7 linked regions of the Homo sapiens genome follow. The protein of the gene in region 6 purifies or fractionates together with the protein of the main gene of each other region. This does not show direct contact. Each region holds a gene or a part of one and is shown on either strand. Other genes may lie near its edges. The genes, in order: TXNL1, IDH2, ACOT9, THOC2, SRSF3, KCMF1 and CPSF7.

Evidence for each region.
Region 1: the proteins of KCMF1 (region 6) and TXNL1 fractionate together in Homo sapiens (co-fractionation; one large-scale study listed by BioGRID). This does not show direct contact.
Region 2: the proteins of KCMF1 (region 6) and IDH2 purify together in Homo sapiens (affinity purification with mass spectrometry; 3 studies listed by BioGRID and IntAct, with this or other methods). This does not show direct contact.
Region 3: the proteins of KCMF1 (region 6) and ACOT9 purify together in Homo sapiens (affinity purification with mass spectrometry; 3 studies listed by BioGRID and IntAct, with this or other methods). This does not show direct contact.
Region 4: the proteins of KCMF1 (region 6) and THOC2 purify together in Homo sapiens (co-immunoprecipitation; one large-scale study listed by IntAct). This does not show direct contact.
Region 5: the proteins of KCMF1 (region 6) and SRSF3 purify together in Homo sapiens (affinity purification with mass spectrometry, with the first as the bait; one large-scale study listed by BioGRID). This does not show direct contact.
Region 7: the proteins of KCMF1 (region 6) and CPSF7 purify together in Homo sapiens (affinity purification with mass spectrometry; one large-scale study listed by BioGRID and IntAct). This does not show direct contact.

Annotation. Positions count from the first base shown.
Region 1 is NC_000018.10:56,611,093-56,614,592, forward strand, and holds part of TXNL1 (thioredoxin-like protein 1), read right to left. Parts: coding exon 3,332-3,500; intron 6-3,331; coding exon 1-5. UniProt on the Homo sapiens protein: Active thioredoxin with a redox potential of about -250 mV.
Region 2 is NC_000015.10:90,099,669-90,103,960, forward strand, and holds the start of IDH2 (isocitrate dehydrogenase [NADP], mitochondrial isoform 1 precursor), read right to left. Parts: upstream 2,801-4,292; 5' UTR 2,723-2,800; coding exon 2,608-2,722; exon of another isoform or gene 2,464-2,607; intron 954-2,463; exon of another isoform or gene 908-953; intron 1-907. UniProt on the Homo sapiens protein: Plays a role in intermediary metabolism and energy production. It may tightly associate or interact with the pyruvate dehydrogenase complex.
Region 3 is NC_000023.11:23,705,277-23,708,776, reverse strand, and holds part of ACOT9 (acyl-coenzyme A thioesterase 9, mitochondrial isoform a precursor), read left to right. Parts: intron 1-832; coding exon 833-900; intron 901-2,037; coding exon 2,038-2,149; intron 2,150-2,918; coding exon 2,919-3,009; intron 3,010-3,182; coding exon 3,183-3,268; intron 3,269-3,500. UniProt on the Homo sapiens protein: Mitochondrial acyl-CoA thioesterase. Catalyzes the hydrolysis of acyl-CoAs into free fatty acids and coenzyme A (CoA), regulating their respective intracellular levels. Regulates both mitochondrial lipid and amino acid metabolism.
Region 4 is NC_000023.11:123,628,553-123,632,052, forward strand, and holds part of THOC2 (THO complex subunit 2), read right to left. Parts: intron 3,301-3,500; coding exon 3,136-3,300; intron 1-3,135. UniProt on the Homo sapiens protein: Component of the THO subcomplex of the TREX complex which is thought to couple mRNA transcription, processing and nuclear export, and which specifically associates with spliced mRNA and not with unspliced pre-mRNA.
Region 5 is NC_000006.12:36,600,862-36,604,361, reverse strand, and holds part of SRSF3 (serine/arginine-rich splicing factor 3), read right to left. Parts: intron 3,211-3,500; coding exon 3,172-3,210; intron 2,655-3,171; coding exon 2,568-2,654; intron 2,401-2,567; coding exon 2,373-2,400; 3' UTR 1-2,372. UniProt on the Homo sapiens protein: Splicing factor, which binds the consensus motif 5'-C[ACU][AU]C[ACU][AC]C-3' within pre-mRNA and promotes specific exons inclusion during alternative splicing.
Region 6 is NC_000002.12:85,054,661-85,058,160, reverse strand, and holds part of KCMF1 (E3 ubiquitin-protein ligase KCMF1), read right to left. Parts: 3' UTR 1-3,500. UniProt on the Homo sapiens protein: E3 ubiquitin-protein ligase which accepts ubiquitin from an E2 ubiquitin-conjugating enzyme and then transfers it to targeted substrates, promoting their degradation by the proteasome.
Region 7 is NC_000011.10:61,419,976-61,423,475, forward strand, and holds part of CPSF7 (cleavage and polyadenylation specificity factor subunit 7), read right to left. Parts: intron 1,664-3,500; exon of another isoform or gene 1,634-1,663; coding exon 1,415-1,633; intron 1,283-1,414; exon of another isoform or gene 1,217-1,282; intron 1,156-1,216; exon of another isoform or gene 1,082-1,155; coding exon of another isoform or gene 1,079-1,081; intron 599-1,078; coding exon 495-598; intron 120-494; coding exon 1-119.

The sequences.
Region 1 (3,500 bases), on a different chromosome or scaffold from region 6:
AATATCTACCAAAAAAAAGTTTGCATTTATAATTACAATCCTTCTTCACAAACATGCTTTAAGTTTAATCAATTTCCTTAAATTAATAACATAAATATTCTCCATTCTTTGTAAAAATTAATCTAGGCTGGGTGCAGTGGCTCACGTCTGTAATCCCAGCACTTTGGGAGGCTGAGGTGGGCAGATCACCTGAGGTCAGGAGTTCGAGACCAGCCTGGCCACCGTGGCAAAACCCCATCTCTACTAAAAACACAAAAAAATTAACCAGGTGTGGTGACTGGCACCTGTAATCCTAGCTACTCGGGAGGCTGGGGCAGGAGAATCGCTTGAATCCAGGAGGTGGAGGTTGCAGTGAGCTGAGATCGTGCCACTGCACTCCAGCCCGGGCAACAAGAGCAAAACTCTGGCTCAAAAAAAAAAAAAAAATTAATCAAAATTATATAACATTAAGACTAGTACTCCTATAGGATAGGACTACTAATTATAGGGCTGTTTGCCCTGCTATTCTCACTTTCTCCAGAGATGTCATGGCAAGAGACCCATATATATAAGTTCATGGTAACTTGGTGTGATAGTATGGCAGAGTCACAATTAAATTCTCTCTCTATATGTATTTTTTGACATGGAGTCTCACTCTGTTGCCCAGGCTGGAGTGCAATGGCACGATCTCGACTCACTGCAACCTCCGCCTCCCAGGTTCAAACGATTCTCCAGCCTCAGCCTCCTGAGTAGCCCACCAGCACACCCGGCTAATTTTTTTTTTTTTTTTTTTAAGAGATGGAGTCTTGCTCTGTTGCCCAGGCTGGGGTGCAGTGGTGCCATCTCAGCTCACTGCAACCTCCACCTCTCAGGTTCAAGCAAGTCTCCTGCCTCAGCCTCCTGAGGAGGGGGGACTACAGGCACATGCTGCCACGCCCGGCTAATCTTTTTTTTTTTTTTTTTTTTTTTAAATTTAGTAGAGACAGGGTTTCACTGTGTTGCCCAGGGTGGTCTCGAACTTCTGAGCTCAGGCAATCCTCCTGCCTCAGCCTCCCAAAGTGCTGGGATTACAGGTGTGAGCCACCGCGCCCAGCAATTAAATTCTTTATAGAGAATGTTGAAAGGGTATTAAGAGTTACAATTACAATGGGACAGACTATCATTGGAAATTTTATTAAAATCATAGTTTTTCACTGAGGAAAATCTCTAAAGTGATATTCTTTCTGATATTCCTGTATCCATTCTATTTCCTAGAATATTAAAAGAAAAAATAGTATTGGGAATCAGCTCCTAAAACAATACTATGTGCCTCATTTTTTTTTTAAGCTTGACTCTATATTTAATAACTCCCCTCAGCACGATAAAAACTAAAAGTTTTACTCATTGATCCTTTGTCATACATTGGATTTTTGAAATTTGCTCCATTTCTAAAAACACAATATTCTAGGTGCTGTCTACTTTAAAATATTGCACCTATCTCTTTTTTGAGACAAGGTCTCATTATGTTACCTAGGCTGGTCCTGAACTCTTTAGTGCAAGTGATGCCCCTGCCTAAGCCTCCCAAGTAGCTGGGACTACCAGCGTACTCCCATGACCAGTTAAAAACTGCCTCTCGTGATTTAAACAACATACTTCTTTCATTCTGAGATGCCACTCATTCGTCAGTTTTTATTGTTTTCATAGGCAGCCATATGTTATTTCAAGAAAATATTTGATAATGAGTATACTAAGTTTAATATAACAATTTTCTTTGATTTCATTTGGGTAGGATATTTCTAATACTTAAAACTCAACTTGATTATAATTTTTTTTTTTTTGTCACCCAGACTGGAGTGTAATGACACAACTGCAGCTCACTGAAGCCTCAATCTCCCAGGCTCAAGTGGTCCCTCCAGAGTAGCTGGGACTACAGGCGCATCACCATGCCCAGCTAGTTCTTGTATTTTTTTGTAGAGATGGGGTTTCACCATGTTGCCCAGGCTGGTCTCAAAATCATGGGCTCGAGCAATCTGCCCATCTTGGCCTCCCAAAATGCTGGGATTACAGGAGTGAGCCACAACACCCAGCCAATTATAATTCTTCATACTACTACTATGTATATTCTGTGAAACTCTCAAAAACATTCTTAAATGAACACATACTTTAGCATTCTTCTAATTTACAAAAATAGAATTATTCCATCACAACAAACAAGCTGTACCAGTTTGGCATGACATTCTCAGTGGCTCTGTGCTGGTTCCTACTTTCTTTTTCTAAGTATTCTGCTATTCTTTTCTAACTGTCCTACCCATTCCTCTAAATGACTGTAGGTGAGAAGTGTGAGCTGGGTTTCAATGCTAAATTTTTTAAAAGCAATTAATAACTGCTAAAAATTAGCTGATTCTTGAGAGTGGCACTTTAATAATGACATCTAAAATACATCACTTAAAATCACCTCAAGCACTAGTCAATCTTCAGAAAGGCTGGGTGTAGTGGCTGAAGCCTATAAACCCAGCACTTTGGGAGGCTGAGGTGGGAGGACTGCTTGAGCCCAGGAGTTTGAGACCAGCCTGGGCCACACAGGGAGAGACTTCACCTCTACAAAAATAAAAAATTAGCTGGGTGAGGTGGCACGTGCCTGCGGTTGCAACTGCTCTGGAGGCTGAGGGAGAATCACCTGAGCCCAGTAGATCAGGGCTATACTGAACCAAGGTCGTGCCACTGTACTCCAGCCTGGACAACAAAGCAAGAACCTGCCTCAAAGGAAGAAAAAATTCAGATATACCTTAGGTCATCTTATAAAATGTAGTATTATCTTTTTAAAAGTCATTTTTAAGCCAGGTGCAGTGGTGCATGCCTGTAATCCCAGCTTCTCAGGAGGCTGAGGCGGGAAGATTATTTGAGCCCAAGAGTTCAAGTCAGCCCGGGCAACACAGCGAGACTCCATCTCAAAAAAAAATAAATAAATAAAAAGTCATTTTTACTAAGATCATGACCACCACACTTAAAAACTCCATATTCAAGAAAAGTAAATAAGATTTTACAAACACATCACTACTATACCAGGTATAAAGAATAAAGCACAAATATCTTCAGTTTTAGTATAAAGTTGTAGAATAAACTTCCAGCAAAACTTACCATATACATATAAAATAACTGACAAAACCCCACAAATATTCAAAAATCAATCTGTCCTTCCTCTTTAGGGTACATAAATTAAAAAGAAGAAAATTTATCCCATTAAACATTTTACTCATTTCAAACTGAGTGAATAAATACCACTTTAAAGAATCACTTAGACTTACCTAGGATACTGAAAATAGTATTGTTACTCACAAACCTATTAAATACATATGAACGAAATACTACTTACAGTTACACTGTTAACATTCTGAAACTTAACATAACGAAGTGGAACAATGCCATCTTCTTTAATATCATCCTCTGTCAGTTCCAGAGCTTGAGTTGGTTCACTTCTTTCTGCCTCTTCAAAATCCATAGATCGGGGTAGGTTGATAAAAATTTTTACATATTTAGGGCCC
Region 2 (4,292 bases), on a different chromosome or scaffold from region 6:
GCTGGTCTGGAGCTCCCAGCCTCAAGCAATCCTCCCACCTCAGCCCCCCAAAATTCTGGGATTACAGGTGTAAGCCACAGTGCCTGGCCTTCCTTAGCTCTTGTACCCATATATCATACTAGTCAACATCTATCTTGCTTACTGTCTGCCCCCTCCCACATCAGAATTTGAGCTCCTAAGGGTTTTGAAAGAGTCTCTGCTGGTTTTATTCCCAGCTCTATCCCCAGCACCCGGCATGGTGTCTGGCACAAAGTAGGAGTATACTACTTTTGTCAAAGACATAAATAAAGGTCAAGTTGAAGTCAACTCCATCTGTGGTCAGGGCTGCCCTGCCCTCACCTTCTGTTTCACTGAATGTGTTTCCTCCCCTCTCACCCATCTGGTATGCATTGCCACACAGGGGCCAGTGAGTTCTTACCAGCAGCCTGCACCAGATGTACACGGGTGGCATCTCTCTCCAGCAATAGGCCCCATGCCCTGAAGAAGCTTACAACCTACAGTGTACTAATATTTGCAATCTGCTGGTATTTTTAACATGGGTTTACAGAGTATAAACCCCAGGGAAGGCCACAGACCCTGGCTTCCAGTAATCTGAGAGCAGTTTCCAGCACCTCATACCCTGAATGGAACCAGCCCAAGGGCCCTCAACTTCACACAGAAGATGTGGGAGCAGGCCTCAGCCATTCCAAAGAGGCTTTTCCTCAGTACCTACTAGGCCTAAACACAACCACCCCAATCAGCTCTGGCAGGGCAGCTAGGGCCTTATCTGACGTGGCAGAAAGATCTGCACACTTAAGGGGCAAGAATTAAGAAGTTTCTGGGTTAGGAGTGAAGGAAGGCTAGATAAGTAATTCTGCCACTGAGCCGTTCACAGAACTGGTCCGCACTGCCCCAAGCTCTAACTTACCAGAAACATCACCAGCAGTCGCTGGAAGCCTATGGCGTTGCAAAATAGGAAAAGATGCGTGCAGGAATTACCAGGCAGCAAAGACACGGGGCTCTTTTAGCCCCAAAATATTCTTTCCTTGTCATCAAGGGGAATGCCAAGTATTCTGTCTCCAGCTGCGTTGCCAGGTAACAAGCTGGCAGAGTCGCAACTGTAGAGTCTGATGTCCAACTCCAACACCAAGCAATTTCCCCATTCATAACCAACCCACATGGGGACTTCTAGAAGGGCCTGCAACTGACTGCTTTTTCTGTATCCAAATTCAGGACCCTTAAAAGGCGCTTTGTGTTCCTGTTTGTGTGTGTTTTTCGGGTTGTTTGTTTCTTTTTTTTTTTTTTACCATCAAGGCAGAAAAAAAGGGAGAATTAAAGAATGTGGCTAACTTCCACCATATTTTTGCTGAAGGTGGTGTGCTATATGGGAATCTTTGGGTCCTGGGGCACTTGGAACCTGGGAGTTGTTGGGCAGATCCCTGAGGTAGATTCCCAGAGGTACAAAAGCAGACATGCCCCTTTCTCCTTGGCAGGGAAGGTAGGACTGGGGCCCAAGCCTCCCTACCCCCCCGGCTCTAGTCAGCTGCTCCCACAATCCGGTTAACCATTACCTCCTCTGGCCAGGTCAGGGCCAGCGGGCCCCATCCCCTCTTCCTCACTCTCCTGGCTCACTGCAAGGGGCTCCTGGCCAGATTAGGATAGGGGTTTCCATGGCAACAGGCATTAGGCAGGGCCAAGGGACCTACATTGTTCCCTGCCTTTTGTAGCTGTGTTGGGTAGCCAGGGTGAGGGGGCAGGCCGATGCCCACACGCCAAGCAAGGCAGCCTGCGTTGGCAACGGAGGCTCGGGCTAAGTCTTGCTTATTACGACCCGACTACTGTCTTCCCTCCTAAGCAGGGAACTAAGGGTACCCAGAAGCCGTGGGAACGATTCCGCAAAGTGACATTTTGCGCGGGCTGCCAGGTCTCTGCGGCGAGTGAGCCAGGCAGGGAGGGCATGTGCCTGCCAAGGCAGGTCAAGTCAAGGAGAGGCCCCAGGATGGAGCCTCAAGTGCAGCGATGAAGGCGAAGGGGTGGGGGTGGGGGCGGCCAAACAAAAGGGGAAAATTAAAAAGGACGCTCCTCCAGCTGTCGTGTAAAAGGCTCCAAAAATAGCTGACGTGGGCCTGGTATCAGCGCGCGCCTGGCTGAAAAGGAAGGGGAAGTGCATGTCTCCCGCCTCCCAGCCTTTGTCTGAGCAGGGGCCGAGCCACGACCCTCCCTCTCGCCAGGGGAGCGCGCGGGGTGCTCCAGCCCCCCACGGGTGCTCGTCTCGTTCCAGGGGCGCAGGGCGGGCAGGCCACCCTTCGGGTCCGGGACACTCTCAGGACCCCCTCCCGAAATACCTAGGGGCGCGCGGCAGCCCCGAGCCCCCGCCCGCGCAGAGCTGGCCGTCGCCCGGGCCACCAGTTGCCACCGTCCCTCAAGTCCCCACCCCAGCGCCTGGCACGGCCGGGAAGCGCCGGGCGGGGGAGCGCGGAGCGAAGCTGCCCCGCGGCCCTTTGTGCGCCTGACCCCGCCGTCCCCGGGCTGCGGGCTGGCGGGACGTGCTTCCCGGCCCCAGCCTGGGAAGCCGCCACGTCGCAGCTGGGGGCGCGCGCCTGCCTGGACCCTCCGCGCGGCACTCACAGTGGCGCCGCGGCTGCTCTTGCGAGGTGGGGGCTGTCAGGGCCGCCGGCGCCCAGGCCGGCCGCGAGCCTGAGGCTCTGCAGAGCGAGCGCACGACCCGCAGGTAGCCGGCCATCCCAAGCTGGAGAGCGAACGAGCAGGGCGGGAGAGGTCCGAGCGCGCGCCGCTCCTCCCGGCTGCCTGGCCGCGGGCTAACGCTGGGCCTGGCGGGCGCTGGCCGCGCGGGCACCACCGGGGCGGGGCTGCCGGGCCTGCCGCCCCATTGGGCCTTGCCGGGGAGGAGGCGGGGCCAGGGCCGCCGACGCCTCCAGCGTCCCGCGGGAGCCGGGACCCGGCGGCCAGGCCCGGCTGGTGCTTCTCTGGGCGCCGCTGAAAGCCCAGCTCCGCAGGAGCTACAGGCGTGAGACCCACCGGGACCCGCGAGCGGGATCAGGGCTGGGGGATTAGCAGAGCCGCTTGCGAGGCTGACCCTCTCCAGGATGCCCCATGTAAACCTGGATGTCAGTTTCTGACGCTTTAGCTTAAACCCAAAAGCCAATCTGAGCGAACTCTTGCTTCCCTCGCCTGCCGGGCTGAACCCAAAGGCGCATTAGCCCAGTGCGGCTGCTTCATTCTTGAGCTAAGACCGCCGGCGGCGTCTGCGCCTCCGCGAGTCCGCTGTCAGGTCCAGCTGGTGTAGAGAGAGTTGAAATCTCACTTTGGGCCGGGCGCGGTGGCTCACGTCTGTAATCCTAGAACTTTTGGGAGGTCGAGGCAGGCGGATCACTTGAAGTCAGGAGTTCGAGACCAGGCTGGCTAACATAATGAAACCCCTGTCTCTACTAAAAATACAAAAATTGATCGGGCATGGTGGCGCGCGCCTGTAATCCCAGCTACTCAGGAGGCTGAGGCGGGAGAATCACTTGAACCTGAGAGGCAGAGATTGCAGTGAGCTGAGATCATGCCACTGCACTCCAGCCTGGGCAACAGAGTGAGACTCCGTCTCAAAAAAAAAAAAAAAAAACCACGAAAAAAGAAATATGATTGGACCAGAAGGCCAATAACCTGAGTGGGGAAACCCAGCAAGTCCTGTCCGTGTAGATTCTTCTTGACCTTTCTCTGCAGCATTCCTTCCTTCTGAGTACGGGGCAGGACTCTCTCTGGGATGGAGGGGTCTTAGGACCTGCAAGCAAACAAGGTAGGTCAGATAATTTATGGCCAGTTTTTACCCAGAAATGTGTGGGAGAAAGAGTAATATTTTTGGGTTCGATGTCTGGCTTTGGGGGAGAAGGGCTCTGGTTTCTATGACCTGCCTTGAGGAAGAAGGATTCCAGTTTCTATGGCTGGCCTCGGAGGAGAGTGAGGGGCCAAAGACAGGAGGGAGGGAGAGGGTCAGAGAGAGCTGCTCCTGAGGCCTGCATTTTGGGGTGTTGTTTTCTGAGACCCTAGAGTAGTCAAACAGCCACAGTAGAAACAGTTCCATTTTTGCCTGTTTGCATATAAAAGATGGGTTTGTTTGTTTGTTTTAATTAAAAATAGAGATGGGGGGATCTCACTATGTTGCCCAGGCTGGTCTCCAGCTCCTAAGCTTAAATGATCCTCCCGCCTCGGCCTCGCAAAGCACTGGGATTACAGGTGTGAGCCACTGCACCTGGCCACAAAAGACAGTTGTAATTGATTCTGCCACAAACAAAGTTTCTCTCTTC
Region 3 (3,500 bases), on a different chromosome or scaffold from region 6:
AGAAATTCAACAGTGATACAGTTATTTAATATGTGATCCGTATTCAGATTTCACCAGTTGTCCCTAAAATGTCCTTTATAGCTATCTTCCTGATTCAGGACCCAATCCATCAAGGATTGTATATTGCATTTGGTTATCCTGTTTCTTTAGAATAGTCTCTCTGCCATTTGCTGTCTTTCAAAAATTGATATTTTTAAAGAGTTCAAGCCAGTTTTCTTTTTCTTTTTTTTTTTTTTTTCTTTTTTTGAGACAGAGTTTCGCTCTTGTTGCCCAGGCTGGAGTGCACTGGCACGATCTCGGCTCACCGCAACCTCCACCTCCTGGGTTCAAGCAATTCTCCTGCCTCAGCCTCCCGAGTAGCTGGGATTACAGGCATGTGCCACCACGCCCGGCTAATTTTGTATTTTTAGTAGAAACGAGGTTTCTCCTTGTTGGTCAGGCTGGTCTCAAACTCCCAACTTCAGGTGATCCCCACCCGGCTTGGCCTCTCAAAGTGCTGGGATTACAGGCGTGAGCCACCACGCCCGGCCTAAAGCCAGTTTTCTTGTAGAGTGTTCTACAACCTATATTTGACTGTTTCCTCATGATTAGAATCAGGTTAAACATTTAGCAGATGCCAGTATCCTTTTTATAATGTTAAGTTTCTAGTGTGCAATTAAGGCTGTAACTGTAAGGCTTCCCTAATTGTTCCAGCGTTCACATGTAAGGCAAGCAGTAAGCACTACCCAAAATGAAAAGCAGATTCTTTAAAAGTAGTAGGTGATTGTTCATCTTCAAGTTTTATTAGATAATGGCATATCTTAAATTATATTCTTTTTTTTCTTCTTTTTAGGCCGGCATTTGTAAATCCACTCATCCCTGAAAGCCCAGAGGAAGAGGAGCTCTTTAGACAAGGGGAATGTACATTAATTTGTTTATAATAAAATAAATTTGAAAAGCACATTAATTACGCTGCAGAAGAGATTATTTAAGATTTTATATGGGCTCTTCATACCAGTCAAATGTCTTTTTTTTGTTTGTTTTTTTGTTTGTTTTTTTTGAAATGGAGTCTCTCTGTCTCTTGCCAGGCTGGAGTGCAGTGGTGCCATCTCGGCTCACTGCAACCTCTGCCTCCTGGGTTCAAGTGATTCTTCTGCCCCAGCCTCCTGAGTAGCTGGGACTACAGGTGCGCGCCACCACACCCAGCTAATTTTTGTACTTTTAGTAGAGATGGGGTTTCACCATTTTGGCCAGGATGGTCTCGATCTCCTGAACTCGTGATCCGCCTGCCTTGGCCTCCCAAAGTGCTGGGATTACAGGCGTGAGCCATTGTGCCTGGCCCAAATGTCTTATTCATACCAATAATTTATTGAAATTAAAAATATGCTATTCTTTTTTCTTTGGAGTCCATACTTTGAATGATTTTATTGATCAGACAATATTTATTAAGTGAAGTAATTTGTTATCTCCGTTTTTTTTTTTTAGACAGTTCTTGCTCTGTTGCCCAGGCTGGAGTTGGGCTTGGGTCCAGGAGTTTGAGGCTACAATGAACAATATTGTAGTCTCGATCTCCTGGGCCCAAGCTATCCACCCACCTCAGCCTCCTGAGTAGCTAGGACTATAGGCACGTGCCACCATGCCTGGCTAATTAAAATTTTTCTTTGTAGAGACAGGGGTCTCACTATGTTGCCCAGGCTGGTCTTGAACTCCTGGACTCAAGCAATCCTCCTGCCTCCGCCTCCCAAAGTGTTGGGATTACAGGCATGAGCCACTGCACCTGGCCTGTTTTCTCCGTTTTAATGAAGTGAGAAATGCATCTCAATGGGATAACTGCAGGTCAGGGCTCTGGATCAGGATGATATCAAGTGATCTCACACTGAACCAATATAATTTCCATGTGGAACCAAAGACTCACTGGGAGTTTTATGTGGCCTCTGCAGTTTTCTCTTGGATACGTGTATAATTTTCAGTGAGATTTTGAAAGGCATCCCAGGTCAGAATACCGTGTGCTGTAGTGCGACCGTCCTGATCATTGCTCCTTATTCTCCCTTGTTCCAGTGAACAAGGGGAGAAGAATTGCCTTCAGCTCCACGTCGTTACTGAAAATGGCCCCCAGCGCTGAGGAGAGGACCACCATACATGAGATGTTTCTCAGCACACTGGATCCAAAGTAAGGATGGTGAGATTCCACGTTGGGAAAACATTTAAACCTTGGCCTTTTTTTTTTTTTTTTTTTTTTGAGACGGAGTTTCGCTCTTGTTACCCAGGCTGGAGTGCAATGGCACGATCTTGGCTCACTGCAACCTCTGCCTCCCGGGTTCAAGTGATTCTCCTGCCTCAGCCTCCGAGTAGCTGGGATTATAGGCATGCACCTCCACGCCTGGTTAATTTTGTATTTTTAGTAGAGACGGGGTTTCTCCATGTTGGTCAGGCTTGTCTTGAACTCCTGACCTCAGGTGATCTGCCTGTCTCCACCTCCCAAAGTGCTGGGATTACAGGCGTGAGCCACCACACCCGACCTTTTTTGTTTTTGAGATGGAGTCTTACCCTGTTGCCCAGGCTGGAATGCAGTGGCGTGATCTTGGCTCACTACAACCTCTGCCTCCCGGGTTCAAGCAATTCTCCTGTCTCAGCCTCCCAAGTAGCTGGGATTACAGGCGCCCGCCACCACGCCTGCTAATTATTTTGTATTTTTAGTAGAGACGGGGTTTCACCACGTTGGCCAGGCTGGTCTCAAGCTCCTGACCTCATGTGATCTGCCTGCCTCGGCCTCCCAAAGTGTTGGGATTACAGGCGTGAGCCACCGCGCCTGGCCTAAACCTTGGCCTTCTCCAGAGCCACAGTTGTCTGAGTGTATTGGGAGTGACTTGCAAATGTTTTTACTTTTCAACAAGAGAACCATGGCATTAACAGGGTTTAATAAATATTCATTTGTACAGGACTATAAGTTTTCGGAGTCGAGTTTTACCCTCTAATGCAGTGTGGATGGAGAATTCAAAACTGAAGAGTTTGGAAATTTGCCACCCTCAGGTATTATAATTTAGTGAGAAATCCGAATAGGATAGCTTCCGTTCATGATATTTGTCCAAGATTTGACACACCTTTAAACTGGCCTTTGTCCTGTGGCATTGTTAATTCCTCTGTTCTGTATACAAAGGTGGCCATAAGTTTTGTATTTATTGATATTTATTTATGTCCTGTAGGAGCGGAACATTTTCAATCGGATCTTTGGTGGTTTCCTTATGAGGAAGGCATATGAACTTGCGTGGGCTACTGCTTGTAGCTTTGGGTGAGTTACATGTAAGGCAGCCTTAACTTCTGAGAAGCAATTTATATCACCCCACTGAAATGAAACATTTCGGACCAGTCTGGGTGTGTGTGGGAATATGTTATGTTTTTGAATGAATACCACACTGATACCAGCTGAATTTGATCTTCATTTTAGAAGGTTGTTTCTCTGACTTTGTAAGTTCATACATTAAAAAAACTACTGAGAAAATACAGTGATGATATGTAGAAAG
Region 4 (3,500 bases), on a different chromosome or scaffold from region 6:
TACAAAAAATTAGCCAGGCGTGGTGGCGCAGGCCTGTAATCCCAGCTACTTGGGAGGCTGAGGTGAGAGGATCACTTGAACCCCAGAGGCAGAAGTTGCAGTGAGCTGAGATCATGCCCCTTCACTCCAGACTGGATGACAGAAGGAGACTGTCTCAAAAAATAAAAATTAAAAAAAAAAAAAAAGCTGGATCAACACTAAGAAAAGTTATGAGAAATTTGTTTTAAGACTGCTAAGTAGGGTGACCAATTGTCAGGGTTTGCTGGGGATTCAGGGATTTCTGAGGATTTAAGACTTCAGTGCTAAAACTGGGAACATCCCAGGCAAACCAGGACCAACTGGTTACTCTACTGCTAAGCCAAATAAATTTTTCTGTGAAAAGCTGTGGTATATTGAAGTTTAAAGCATGTGAGAACTGATGCTGCAGCTTCTTTCGTTTGACTGGTTTATCCTAATTTGGGGGAAAAAACAGAGGAATGCCATATTCTTAATTGTATGAGGAAAAAAAATTGTTAGTACAATGGGAGGGGCTGCAGAGATGTGTATGCCAAATATATTATACATATATATACACACACAAAAATATATATATTTTTTCTATATATTCTATATATATGAAGATAACATATATATGAACATATATATTATACATGAACACACACACACACACACACACACACACACACACACACACATATATATGAAGATAACACAGAGTTGCTGCTATTGTTTCACATCCTTCAGTCTCTTTAGGATGAAAGAGCTCTCATCCAGAAAATTTTGTTTAAGTTAGGTATCACCCTTCATACGAACCTAAAGGAAGTCCTAAAACTAGTTACTTCCTTACGTTAGAAAATCACTTAAATCATTCTATTTGTGCTAAACACGTAACCCAAAACGAGATGATCAAAGGTTCTGCTTCCAGTTCTACACTGTGATAGGCAAAAGAGTCTCAGCTCCTTACAGCTCAGTTACCTGCCTTCCTTCCTGAGTGCTCAATTTTACAATTGTTCTAGAATTTTACAATTGTTCTAGAAGTGGGAAGATTTATGCTCTGTTATCCCCATTTTAGAGAGCATGCTGACAACCACTGAGACCACGTAAGTGACAAAGCTACAAAGAACATTAGTTACGAAAAAGGAGTCCCAATTGCATCAGAAACCTGAGGGAATAGCAGTTGGGAAAACAGAGAGTGTTTTTTAATTTAGAGGACAGGTCTTATTGAAGGTAACTAATATGAATCTAGATGAGCAGAATGACTTCTGCTAAGGTTCTAACAAAACGGGATAAAATAGGGCTGACATTATCTGCATAAAAGACAGCCTAATTACCTGTTCTGGGCAAGATCTAGAATATGAACTAGGTTAAAAGCCTATCTTTCAGACCTGTGTCTCAAGGTGGACCACAACCTCAACAATTAAAACTAAAAATTAGTTTATAGGTATGAGAGGGTTACATGATAGCTCCAATCTCCCCAGTCCTCTGGGTCTGAATCTGTGATTTCTATTGCTAGGAACCCCATAGTCACTATCTAGTTAGAAAAATAGGCTTGGTCAGAAAAGAAGGCTATACTTCGTATTTACCCAAGATGAATATGTCCTTGTCTAAAGTCAGTTTAACTCCCACTTCAAGTTCACACCTTCAGTCAAATGAAGAGACATAACAGTTCTACATTTCAAATTGCCTGGGGAACTAGACTTATGGAATAGAACTGATATCCACAATTATTGCTGTACTTCTCACTATTGTTCAAAAATCTCGTCTCAAGAATCTGAGCAGGCCAGGCACAGTGGCTCATGCCTATAATGCCAGCACTTTGGGAGGCCAAGGCAGGCGGATCACCTGAGGTCAGGAGTTTGAGACCAGCCTGGCCAACATGGTGAAATCTCATCTCTTCTAAAAATACAAAAATTAGCTGGGTGTGGTGGCGGGCACCTGTAATCCCAGCTACTTGGGAGCCTGGGATAGGAGTATCGCTTGAACCCGGGAGGTGGAAGTTGCAGTGAGCTGAGATTGCGCCACTGCACTCCAGCCTGGAAGACAGAGCGAGACTCCATCTCAAAAAAAAAAAAAAAAAAAAAAAAAAAATCTGGGCAGCGTTTGGCTGAATTATCCTCAAGAGAGCCTGCTGATAGTTTATAGAGGGGACATAGCAATCACCTAATATACATTTTCACTCTCTCAACGAAGGCTCTTCAACAGAGGCTTTCACTCAAGAAGCAAAAGCAAGGATCCCCAGGACAGCTTGGATGCCCATCCAGCACAACCACAAGATTGCTGGGAAACACCTTTTCCAGAGAGTGGCATGCTGCCTACAGATAAAAGACTTATATCTGACTTGGCTATACAGCCACTTTCATTTAGTTTTCTGTTTTCTTCCAAGCCTGAGAGGGAAATGCCATTTCTTTGTTTAGGTTTTTGTATCTCTTAAAAGACAAAGGTAATATTTTACACAAGTAAGAGAGAAAAAGTAGCTTGAATGACCTGCTCCATTTTCTGAGCTGGAAAAGTTCAGCCAACCACAGACAACCAGGTGTTCCTGTTTGCTAGGATTCCATATTGCTGATTAGTGTGTTCACTTAGCACAGGGCAGGTCAGAATTCCTAAGATGAAGAAATTCTCCCACCTCTGTCTGTCAAGAAATCAGGTACCCTCTTGCACAGCTGAGACTGATCTACCATGGGGTGTGACAACAGTAAGACGTTACACAAAGACGGCAAACAATTCTCTGGATTGAGAGGATCTAAAGGGGAAGAAGCAGCCTAACACCACTCCCTTATTGTCTTTTTCCCTTCAGAGTGTATACATAACACAGGAATTTCTGCATAGTGCTAACAAAGTGATAATTAAATCAAGTAGCAGTTAGTTAGGAAAGAAGTGGGAGACTGTAGCAGTTGATATGTAAACACTAACAGCAGATGTTTGATTAAATGATCAATTAGACTCCAAATTTCTCATCACCTTTTTTGTATACCTCTACCACACAGCTTCGTACCCCTATTGGAAACAAAGAAGGGATCCTAGTTTAGGGCCAAGACCTTCCCCCAAAATCTGTAGTGATATGTACTTACAGATAAAACCGTTAAGAAATAATTTGGATCGTTCTTGAGCGGCAGCAAAGACACTTGTACTTACCGAAATATGATGGGCATACATTGGCCTAGACAGGAAAAATGCTGCATCATGGGGTGTATGAAATTCATTACAGAGTACATCAATTGAAGGCACTCGCTTTATATAATCTTCTGTGCTCAGATTAGATGCTAAAAACCCACCAAACTGCACCAGGGTATCATGACACTAAATTTAAAAAATAAGACAAAATCAACATATTTTCCAAAGTGATTAAGAAGTCATTTTAGGAATATTTTAACAATTAAGAATCCAAATTTTATAACTTAAAAGGACTTTAGAGACTATCTACAAGTATAACCACATGACCATATTACAAAAAAAGATGCCAAGGCCCTGACAGGTTGACTAATCCAAGGTTTTACTAG
Region 5 (3,500 bases), on a different chromosome or scaffold from region 6:
AAGTGCTAGGAATTACAAGTGTGAGCCACCACATCCAGCCAGTGTCTTTGAAAACAATCAAATATAATCCTTAATGTTTCTTTACATTGTCATCAAGTATTAGTAACAGTGACTTCTAGTGAACACCTTGATCCTTAAACCACAGGTCTAAGTTCAGTTTTGTGATTCCTTTCATTTTTACACTCAACCCTGAATATGGACAAGACCGGTTAGTGTGACCTGTTATTTTAGGAATTACAACTTTAAAAATTCCTAATAGCCACAATCTAAATGTGCAATTCAAAGCTTTTAACAATTTCCATGTTCTAAAGTTTCTAAGAGTCTTGAGGTTATGCTAGGGCTCCTGGTTAAAGTAACTGCCAACTGGGACTGTATGTCACCTAAGTCAGGATAACTCCCTGGTGAAGTTACTTTTATTTCAGGTTCTGTATTATTTCTCTTAGCCATATTATACCCGTAACTGTCCTTTTTACAGAAACCCTTCCAACTTAAGAGCCTGCAAGGAAGTCATATACTGCCCAAAAATGCCCACATAAGTTGTCCATTTATAAAAAGCAATGTAATTGACATATTGCATGGCTTCCGTAACTTCTTAGCTATCTTGGCTTGTTCCTAACAGGAACAGGTTGTAGGCTATGTGAGAATACTAAAGACAAAATGCCCAATGCCAGAGCTCTCAGTAAATAAACAGGCTGTCTGAAAAGTGTCTTTCTTGAACATGCTTAACTTTAAGGCTGAACCTTCCTGACACCAATTCTCCCAAGATTTGTGTAAAAGGTGGAAATAAATAATTTGTTTAGGAACTGTATCTTAATGTATCCATTTAGCTTGAACTCTTAATGCAATGACTTATCTTTCATATTTAAGACAGTCAATACCGCATAATCCAAAACTATCTTAAGAGCATATTTAAGGAAACTAAGCCACAAGACTGTTGCATTATGATTTAATCTAATTGCACAAAAATTTGAAATTACAACACCTGCCATTTTCTAAGAGGAAGGTTATGCATGCCTCCATATTCAATTCTGCACTGTTACATTTGAACCATATTGTGAACTTTTACATCATGATGGATCAGCTTAGAATTCCCATGCAACACCTCAAATTATAAAATGGAAGCAATTTTTAGACCTGTGGAAAGTTTTCATGCTAAAGATAAAAGCCATTTGTTAATGGGCAACTTACTTTGTGTTTAAGAACCAGGTTGCTGCTATACTTTAAAATGTTGGTCACTAAATATTATGGACCCTGAACTGGCTTCTATGCCTAAAAAAAAAAAAAATGGGTTAACTATCACTTAGGTGACATCTATATTTCCTTCACTTCAGAAGACTAATCCATAGTGCCTCTCAGCTGTTTCTTATAAAATAAGAATCGTGTAACCAACTGCTTCCCATGGGATAAGAACAATGGTAACAGTGGGTTCAACTGACTATACACAATTATGCTAATATTTTATTAATTCAAAAGCACTTTACAAGAAAATATAAGTATGGCTTCCAATAGGAATGTTATACCTGGACTTGGTACCAAGCTCACAGATTTGAGTTTGCAAGGAAAAACAGGCTTTCAAGTTAAAGAACAATTTGTAACCAAAACTTTAATCCCAAGGATTCTCACAAAACATATTACAAATGACAGCATGAAAAAAAAATCTTGCACAGTAACTCAAAGTTCGGCTCTACAATGTACCCTTAAACTGGCAGGACATTTTTGAAATCACAAATTTGCACATAAAGAATGTCACGAACAGCCATGTATCCATATACAGCAATCAAATAAGGAACTTATGACCTAAAGCAAAGGTAAACTTTCTTGAAACTTAACATTCTATACCAACTAGGCAACCTCTGCCCAGGATGAGAGTTGGATTTTTCAAAAACCTCTAATTTAATAGTGCAGCATTTCGTTTTCCCTGATGGCCTGTGTTTCACAGCAGTTTTTAAAGACTGCTTGTTCAACTATAGCTGCAGCCTATATCCCAGCTATGGAAAAAAAAGTAAATCTTAGTTCAATTTTTGCCAGTTGTTTCTGTATTTAAATTTAAAAAAAAACACACTTCCGCTGGGCAGGTTTAGAGGTTTATTATCAGTCTGTGCATAACTAAAAGTTCAAAGCAAATTCAATTTTGCTTAAGGGAACATTGTAAAGTAACAATTCTTGGTATTACATGCCTCGTATGATCCATTTCAAACCATAGAGAATTACACCTTTGTGTCACTGTTTCAAGAGACAAACAGATTTGAACAGCTAAAACATCTTAAAAATGCACCAAGCTTATGAAGTCTCAAACAAAACTTGAATTTTCTGTACATACTCCTGTCAAATGAAGTAATTTCCTGTACACCACTTCTCTTGCAAACTGTCTTCTATTTCCTTTCATTTGACCTAGATCGACTAAAAAAAAAAAAAAAAAAAGAAAACAAAACATTACATCTGTAACTTGGTGACACTTTAGTGACATATCGAAATAGAACTTTAAGGTAAAAAATTTATGGCTTAGAAGACAGGCCTTAGCATACTATGTATGCAAAGTCTTAAATACAAGTTATCAAAGATCTTACCTACGAGACCTAGAGAAGGATCGGGACGGCTTGTGATTTCTCTCCCGAGACAGCGATCTCTCTCTTCTCCTATCTCTAGAAAGGGACCTAAACAAGCAAAAAAACATTAGGACCAATGAGGTATGATAAAATTATACATAAATATTTTCTTGATCTGGCATGGTGACTCATGCCAATAATTCCAATATTTTGGGAGGCAGAGGCAGGAGGCTCACTTGAAGCCAAGAGTTTGAGAACAGATTGGACAACAAAGTGAGATCCCATCTCCACAAAAAATAAATTAGCCAGGTATGGCAGTACTTGCCTGTAGTCCAAGCTACTCAGGAGGCTGAAGAGGGAGGATCACTCCAAGGCCAGGAGTTAAAGGCTACAGTGAGCTATAATCACACCACTGCACTCCAGCCTGGGTGACAGATCCTTTTTTAAAAAATTAAATACTTTCTAAAAAGCCTTTGAAAACTCAAAGAAAGCTGACTCATCCTTACAACTTGATTCACTATTAAAGCCAAGGTTTATTCCCATTAACTAAGCCACCTGGAAAAGTTTAGGAATAGCAGAAACACTGCCATTTCTAAGAACGTAGCCAAAAAAGGTAGTCATTTACCTGCTCCGGCTGCGAGAGAAGCTTCTCCTTCTTGGAGATCTAAAAGCAGAAACAGGAAAATTAGGCTCATCATCAATTAGTATTTATGGCGTGAGGCATTTCCCAACTTTTCAATCTCACTGTTGGGCCCAGTGAATGTGCCGAAGAACTGGCACCCATCGTCCAAAAAAAAAAAAAAAAAAAAAAAAAGAAAAAAAAGAAAAGAAAAAAAAGGCACAGAAGGATTAAGAAACAAAAAGCTCAAGTGAAAAGCAGGTATTCCAACCATGGATTCACTTTAACAAAGAATGCTTCACAGCAGATCTGTCCAATGCAAAACTTCATGTCAA
Region 6 (3,500 bases):
CCGCCTTGGCCTCCCAAAGTGCTGGGATTACAGGCGTGAGCCACCACACCCGGCCCCACATGGGTTTTCAAATCAGCCATGTGCAGCCCTCATCCATATCTGTGCACTATCTGTACAGCAAGTAAAGTTACCTGGGACAGTCAGACTTAAGGGTTCTTTTTAATTGATCTCTTTAGTTGCTGTAAAGTTAACTGACTTACTAAAGTTAACATGAGGACTTGAGAGCATTCTCCTTTGTGATTTGAGGAACCCATGTTATTAGGCATTACCCACCTAATAGCAACCGACTAAAATGTGACGTGGAGGTTCAGGATCAACTTCTCTGAGACGAATCGTCTTTCAAAACTTGAATTTGCTAACCAAGTTGAGGAAGTGGCAACAAACATCAAGTCACATTTTATTCGAGGTCTGCTGCAGGGTTCCTTAAATAACGAATGTATGCATTTATAGAACACTGACAGAAATGGGTTGAAAAACTACAGAAACCAAGAGGCAAGAGTACGAATTAGAAACAAACGTTGTGTAAGCACAGTTGAAGCCGATAAGCACAGGGAATTAGATTTTTATACTATTCAGAAAAACAGTCACTTGAATTTGGCTTTGGAATACCGTAATGACTGACTCAGACATAGCCATGTTTAATAGCACAGAATTTCATGACATCGTCACAACCTGAAAGTCTGCAGACTGCTGCTCCATCCTGCACTCTAACCCTAACCTCTACCCACTCCAGGCCAGGCATAGGGTTTCAATTACTGTTGAGGCTGAAATGAGATGAGATGAGAGGCTCCTCCCCAGCCTCTTCCCTTCCACCTGCCCACCCCCATCCCACTTCCGGTCTCAAGGAGAGAACTGTTTTAGTGTCTAGTTGAGCTTTAGAAAGAGCACAGATAACCGTAACTGTTTTCCAGCATGAACACCAACTTTCGCGTATAATTCTGGGATAATTTCGTACCTAGTGTTTTAATTTTTTTTTTTTTTGAGACAGAGTCTTGCACCGTCGCCCGGGCTGGAGTGCAATGGCGGCGTGATCTCAGCTCACTGCAACCTCTGCCTCCCAGGTTCAAGCGATTCTCCTGCCTCAGCCTCCCGAGTAGCTGGGATTACAGGTGCCTGCCACCATGCCCAGCTAACTTTTTGTATTTTTTAGTAGAGATGGGGTTTCACTATGCTGGCCAAAATGGTCTCAAACTCGACCTCGTGATCCACCCGCCTCGGCCTCGCAAAGTGCTGGGATTACAGGCGTGAGCCACCACGCTCAGCCGTGTTTTAATTTTTACTGCACATGAAACCAATATTGCATGTGCCCCTTAAACTGTGCATGCAAACTAAGAAACAGGCATGTCATATATAGTAAACACGGCTGCAGGGCTTCTCTACAAAACTGTTAAGAGCTTTTAGCACCCATTCCTCCATCACACTTAGTTTTTTACACATGCCTGTATCAGTAAGCCATATCAGACCCCACTTACAGTAGACTTAATATTGGTACTGAACACTGTTACAGGAATCCCATTCAAAAGATTCTTTTCTGCAGCCACCTGCTACCGTAACCTCTCTAGTATTCTCCTTCTACCCCCCAACCCACTTTGTCCTTAACTAGAGCTATGAACTATTGATATATGTGCTTACCCCAACATCCATGGAGTAAATATATAAAGCGTTAATATTTGCAGTGAGGAGCCTAGCTTTTTTCCTGGAAACTAAGGCTTGGACGTATCAAGAGAACTCTGAACCTGTTACCCGTTCTTTTAACTGTGGCCCACAGACCGGAAAAAAACACAAAAGCCTTGGTGACCTTTGAAAATCTGTCAGCATATTATTGAAATTTCTAATATTGAGAGGGAAAATGGGGGGTGGGGATAATGGGCTGGATTTTTTTTGTTACGTCTATTATTTCTAATAGTGTAATCTGCTATCCTACTTCATTTCTCTGGGGGCCACAGGGAGAGAAGTTTTCTCTTACTTTACCTGAGCCTAATTATAAGAATCCACTACTTTGTTAGTAGCAAACCTAGGTTCTACTTCTGTGGATTTTTTTTTTTTTAACAAAACAATGCAATATAAATACAAAGATTTCACGGTAGCCAACCACAGAAATTCTGTCTTATGATTGCAGCCATACAAGGAAGCACAGTTATTTCTACTTGTTCAGAGCTGAAATTAAACTTCTTCCAGAGCACCTCGAGGGGAAAGATTTAAATGATTTCTAAACAGGAAGTAAAGACAAGCACTGTAGAACATTTATAAACTTATATCCTAGACACTCAAAACTCAACGAAACAAAAAATTCTCAAAATTCAGGATCTGGTCCTTAGAAATTTGAAGGTGCTGCCAAAATAAACAGTGGTATATTTTGATTTTGTCTCCATCAAAGTCTTTGCAATTAATTTTTATTCAATAGTACATCCAGTAATAAGATTTTCATTCAGAAACTAAAGAAAAAGGACACAAGAATTTCAAGGGCTTGAATATATTTTTATATTGATATTCTGTGTCGTTCTACCCTAAAATAATACATTATTGATTACATACAGGATGAGGTGAGGTATTTGTAAAATATCTGGTAAAAAATAATTAATATACAGTATTCTACATGAGATGGAATCTTATGACTCCTTAGGTCTTCTGCAGTGTTAAAAGTGATCATCTAAATTAAACTGCTCTGAATGGACTTACAGTTGTTCCCTAAAACCATGTTAAAAAATGAAGGCTTTTACATTTTCCCAGAATTTGTGCAGAAAAGGGAAAGTACATATAATTGGCATTTATTTCTCACATCCAAAATAATGCATTCACACAAAACCAGGATCTCCCATGTTTAGCATAAAAAGAAAAAAAATACTGGATTAGAGATATAAAATCTCAGAGTAATGGTTAGGTTAATCCACTAACACCAAAGAAATTCAAGTGGTCAACAGTCTTGAAAATGCTTTATTGAAATGTGTGACTTATGTGCAGATGTGTTTGAAAGACCACAGCTTGAAAACTGATTTTTGAAACTTCTCAACAACCAAATGAAAAAAAATGAAAATCCCTAATGGGCTTGACTTCTAGTGTAACCAGAAGCCTGGTGTAAAGTTTTCCTTTAAACATTATCCATTACAGAACTAAAGAAAACAAAGCTATTGTATTTGGAAATCGTTGGAGTTTGAAGTTTCAGAGGAGAAGCAACAGTTTTTCAGACATGTAGGGTGACTTCTTTTTTGGTTACATTTGGATGAACATGGACTTCACAGTTCTCGGAAGAACACCGGAGGGGTGTTCAAGTCTGTATGCTTGTCATGTTGAAGAAACGGAGATACACGGACAGGAAAGGAAAAGGATGACAGGAGAAAGAGAGGAGACTTTGAAAAGGGCTCAGAGAAAAGAGAACTGGAACGAGACATGATTAGGTTAAGTCTAGTTATAAATTTATCAGAAGCTGTGCGCACCTTTTTAAAAGTCCTAAATTTACATTCCAAAAACTGCCCTCCCAACCCCCAAACCCGCTGTCCCTG
Region 7 (3,500 bases), on a different chromosome or scaffold from region 6:
ACAGGTTCTGCCGGGTGGCCGGCCTCACGTCCACTTTTTCTCCATTAAGAACTTTCCCTGGTAGGAGTTCCAACAATTTGTGGACAGAGTTTTCAGAGGCTACCACCACCTCAGCATACCTTAGGAAAGAAAAATTAAAAATGAATGAAATCTGTAGACAGCCAAGAGAAGAAAAAAGAAATTCTCTTCCACTTTTAGTAAAAATTGATAAAGCAAAGGACATCTTGCTAAACTAAACACACATACAGCACTAACAACAAAGAGACAGCCTAAATCTTTATTTTTTTGGAATTAAAAATCAGTATTCTTCGCCCCTTAACAGATGGATATTCTACTACACTGCAGCTAGGTCCCTTTCTAAGGCAGTTTGCCAAAACCAAGGCAGTAAGCTGGGCCAGGGGTGGGAGTGATTAAAATCCAGGGCCAAAATATAGTACAGATCTTTTATCCCAATGGTTACAAATTAAAAGGGGCTTCTCAAATCCAGACCTCACCCTTTGGACTGGCCATTTGCTCGATTCTCTGCAAATTTCAACTCCACCACATCATAGACTCCTATAGAGCGAATAACCTGGATCAGCTGCTGGTCTGTGGTCCACTGGGGCCGGCAAGATGGAAAAGGAAGAGATGTCAAGAGCTACACCCCCGCCCGCCAATGTCCCAAACCCAGGATTCTAGTCACAACTAAGTCCCCCCAGAGGAAACTCAAAAGCCTGGCAATATTTCAATTAGTGCAGACTTTTCTTATTGTCCTCACCCATACAGAATTCCAAACCCACTCACCCCCAATCTCCATCTTTAGAGATTACGAAGATTAAAACTTATTGTAACTTTGACTGCCGTTTGGGCTGGCTGGTCATCAGTTCAAACATTGACAGCTAGCAATTTTTTAATTATAGATCTGTCAGGCTAGAGTTGACCATTGCCAGAACTTCCCCCACAGTAAATATACTTCCTAATTTGGAAAAACCACCCCCACCACCAGCCCCAAAACATCACAAAATAACTTGCAGAACAACAGTCACCACCTACCCCAAGTATACTAGAGTTATCAAGGTCTTTAATCCCCATCACCCACCATTATCACAGGACCATCTAATGACCACCAAGAGTTCAAGGTGTTCACTCTGAAATCTCGTCCCTCAGATGACCCTGCTAGACATAAAGCCCCAGGGTCAGGGGCAGTAACAAGATGGCAGAAAAAGCAACTACCCACTTAATCATTGCTTTCTTCGGCACCAGTACGTCCTCAGGATAGTTCTCTTTCAGAGATCAATCCAACCTGATCCCAGGAAAAAGAAATCCAACCCCATCAGAGCACAAAACAGTGCAACAGTAGTTTCTGAAAATGCCATCACCTCCCAGTGCTCTCCCTCCAGCCCACCCCTAAGCATTTTTGGTTACCCACACTCACCCAGGAGAAGCTGCCCACATAAACGGCAGCTCGTCTATTACGCAGGCCACTGTAGGTATACAGAATTGCAGGGGTCTTGTTGTTGGGCTTGGGAGATGGCTCCTGGCGAACAGGAGGAGGTGGTTCAGTGCTGCTGCTTCTGTCATCTGAGGGCTGTGAGGTGGCTGTCAGCACATCATCATACAGGTCAATCTGATCTGTATTGTTGAACTCTGGGTCCTAAGAGATGAGGGGTTGGCAAAGGTAGGTCTGCAAACTTCATTTTGTTCATTCTATTTCACTCTAGTTTATTAGAATCCAGTTAAATACTTGGTAAAACATGTACAAAACTTCCTTGTCCTACCCCAGGAAACAAAGTAAGAAAAACCTCCTTTTGAAACTGTATCACTTAATTATGCTTATGTACATTTTTTTCCCCTCAAGATTCTGTTAATAGTCTGTAAAGTTTCTGGCTTTAGCCAACGGCAAGAATCAAAAAGCACTGGGTGATTAAGCAAGCAAAGAAAGAATGCATAATGAGATGCATGGGCTGCTGTTATCAATAAGGTCAGCTTCTAAAGACCACATCTAAGATAAGCTAATGAAAACTTATTTTCAGTATCTTATGCTATTTCCAAAATCAAGTGTTACATAAAATTCACTTGTCTATTTAATAATAAATTTATTTAGAAACAGAATGCAGAGGAAAAGCATGAAAGTGGGTACAAAAATGCAGAAAAGATTGGGAGTTACTGATTTAAATCCCTTGATTGGTATAAATGATTTAGGAAAGCTCTAAACTCATTGTACACAATCCCATCTTTCCATCGGAGAAAATAAAAAATAAATAAAAGGGAAGGGAATAACAACAGGGGTTTTCCCCTACTAAGTTCTATTTCTTAAATGACATACAGGCCCAATGCATTACCATGACATGTATCTAGGAGACTTTTTTTTTTTTTTGAGACAGGGTCTCACTTTGTCACCCAGGCTGGAGGGCAGTGGTGCAATTACAACTCACTGCAGCTTCAACCTCCTGGGCTCATGTGATCCTCCCACTTCAGTCTCCCAAGTAACTGGGGACTACAGACATGCGCAACCATGCCCAGCTAATTTTCAAATTTTTTTTGTAGAGACAGGGTTTCACCATGTTGCCCAGGCTAGTCTGGAACTCCTGGACTCAAGTGATCCACTGGCCTCGGCCTCCCAAAGTGCCGGGATTACAGGGGTGACTACCATGCCCAGCCAATATTCAATGATATACAAAAAACAGTTAAAGTTCTCTAAAATATAAGGGCCAGAAAACAGGACAAGAACATAAACTGTATCACACAGTAAGCATTTACAATATGAATATGTATTATGGAAAATGTGCAAAATACATATTCTGCCTATGTGATATCTTACTTACTATATACCAAAACCCCTAAAACTACAACTACTACTACTACGATACAGGACCTTAATGTTTAGGATTTTACAGGCTGGGTGCAGTGGCTCACGCCTTGTATCCCAGCACTTTAGGACGCAGAGATAGGCAAACTGCTTGAGCCCAAGAGTTTCAGACCAGCCTGGGCAACATGGTGAAACCCTATCTCTACAATAAATACAAAAATTAGTTGGGCATGGTGGCACACATCTATAGTCCCAGCTACTCGAGAGGCAGAAGGATCACTCGAGCCCGGGAGGTTGAGGTTGCAGTGAGCCAGCCTGGGCAACAGAGTGAGACCCCATATCAAAAAAAAAAAAAAAAAAAAAAAAAGGGTTCAGGATTCTACAATGTAATTACCTCAGAGAAATCTTTTTTTTTTTTTTTTTTTTTGAGACACAGTCTTGCTCCATTGCCCAGGCTGGAGTGCAGTGGCGCCATCTCAGCTCACTGCAACCTCTGCCTCTTGGGTTCAAGTGATTCTCCTGCCTCAGCCTCCTGAGTAGCTGGGATTACAGGCACACACCACCATGCCCAGCTAATTTTTGTATTTTTAGTAGAGATGGGGTTTCACCATGTTGGTCAGGCTGGTCTCAAACCCTTCATCTCGTGATCTGCCCACCTCGGCCTCCCAAAGTGCTAGGATTACAGGCGTGAGCCACCGTGCCTAGCCTCAGA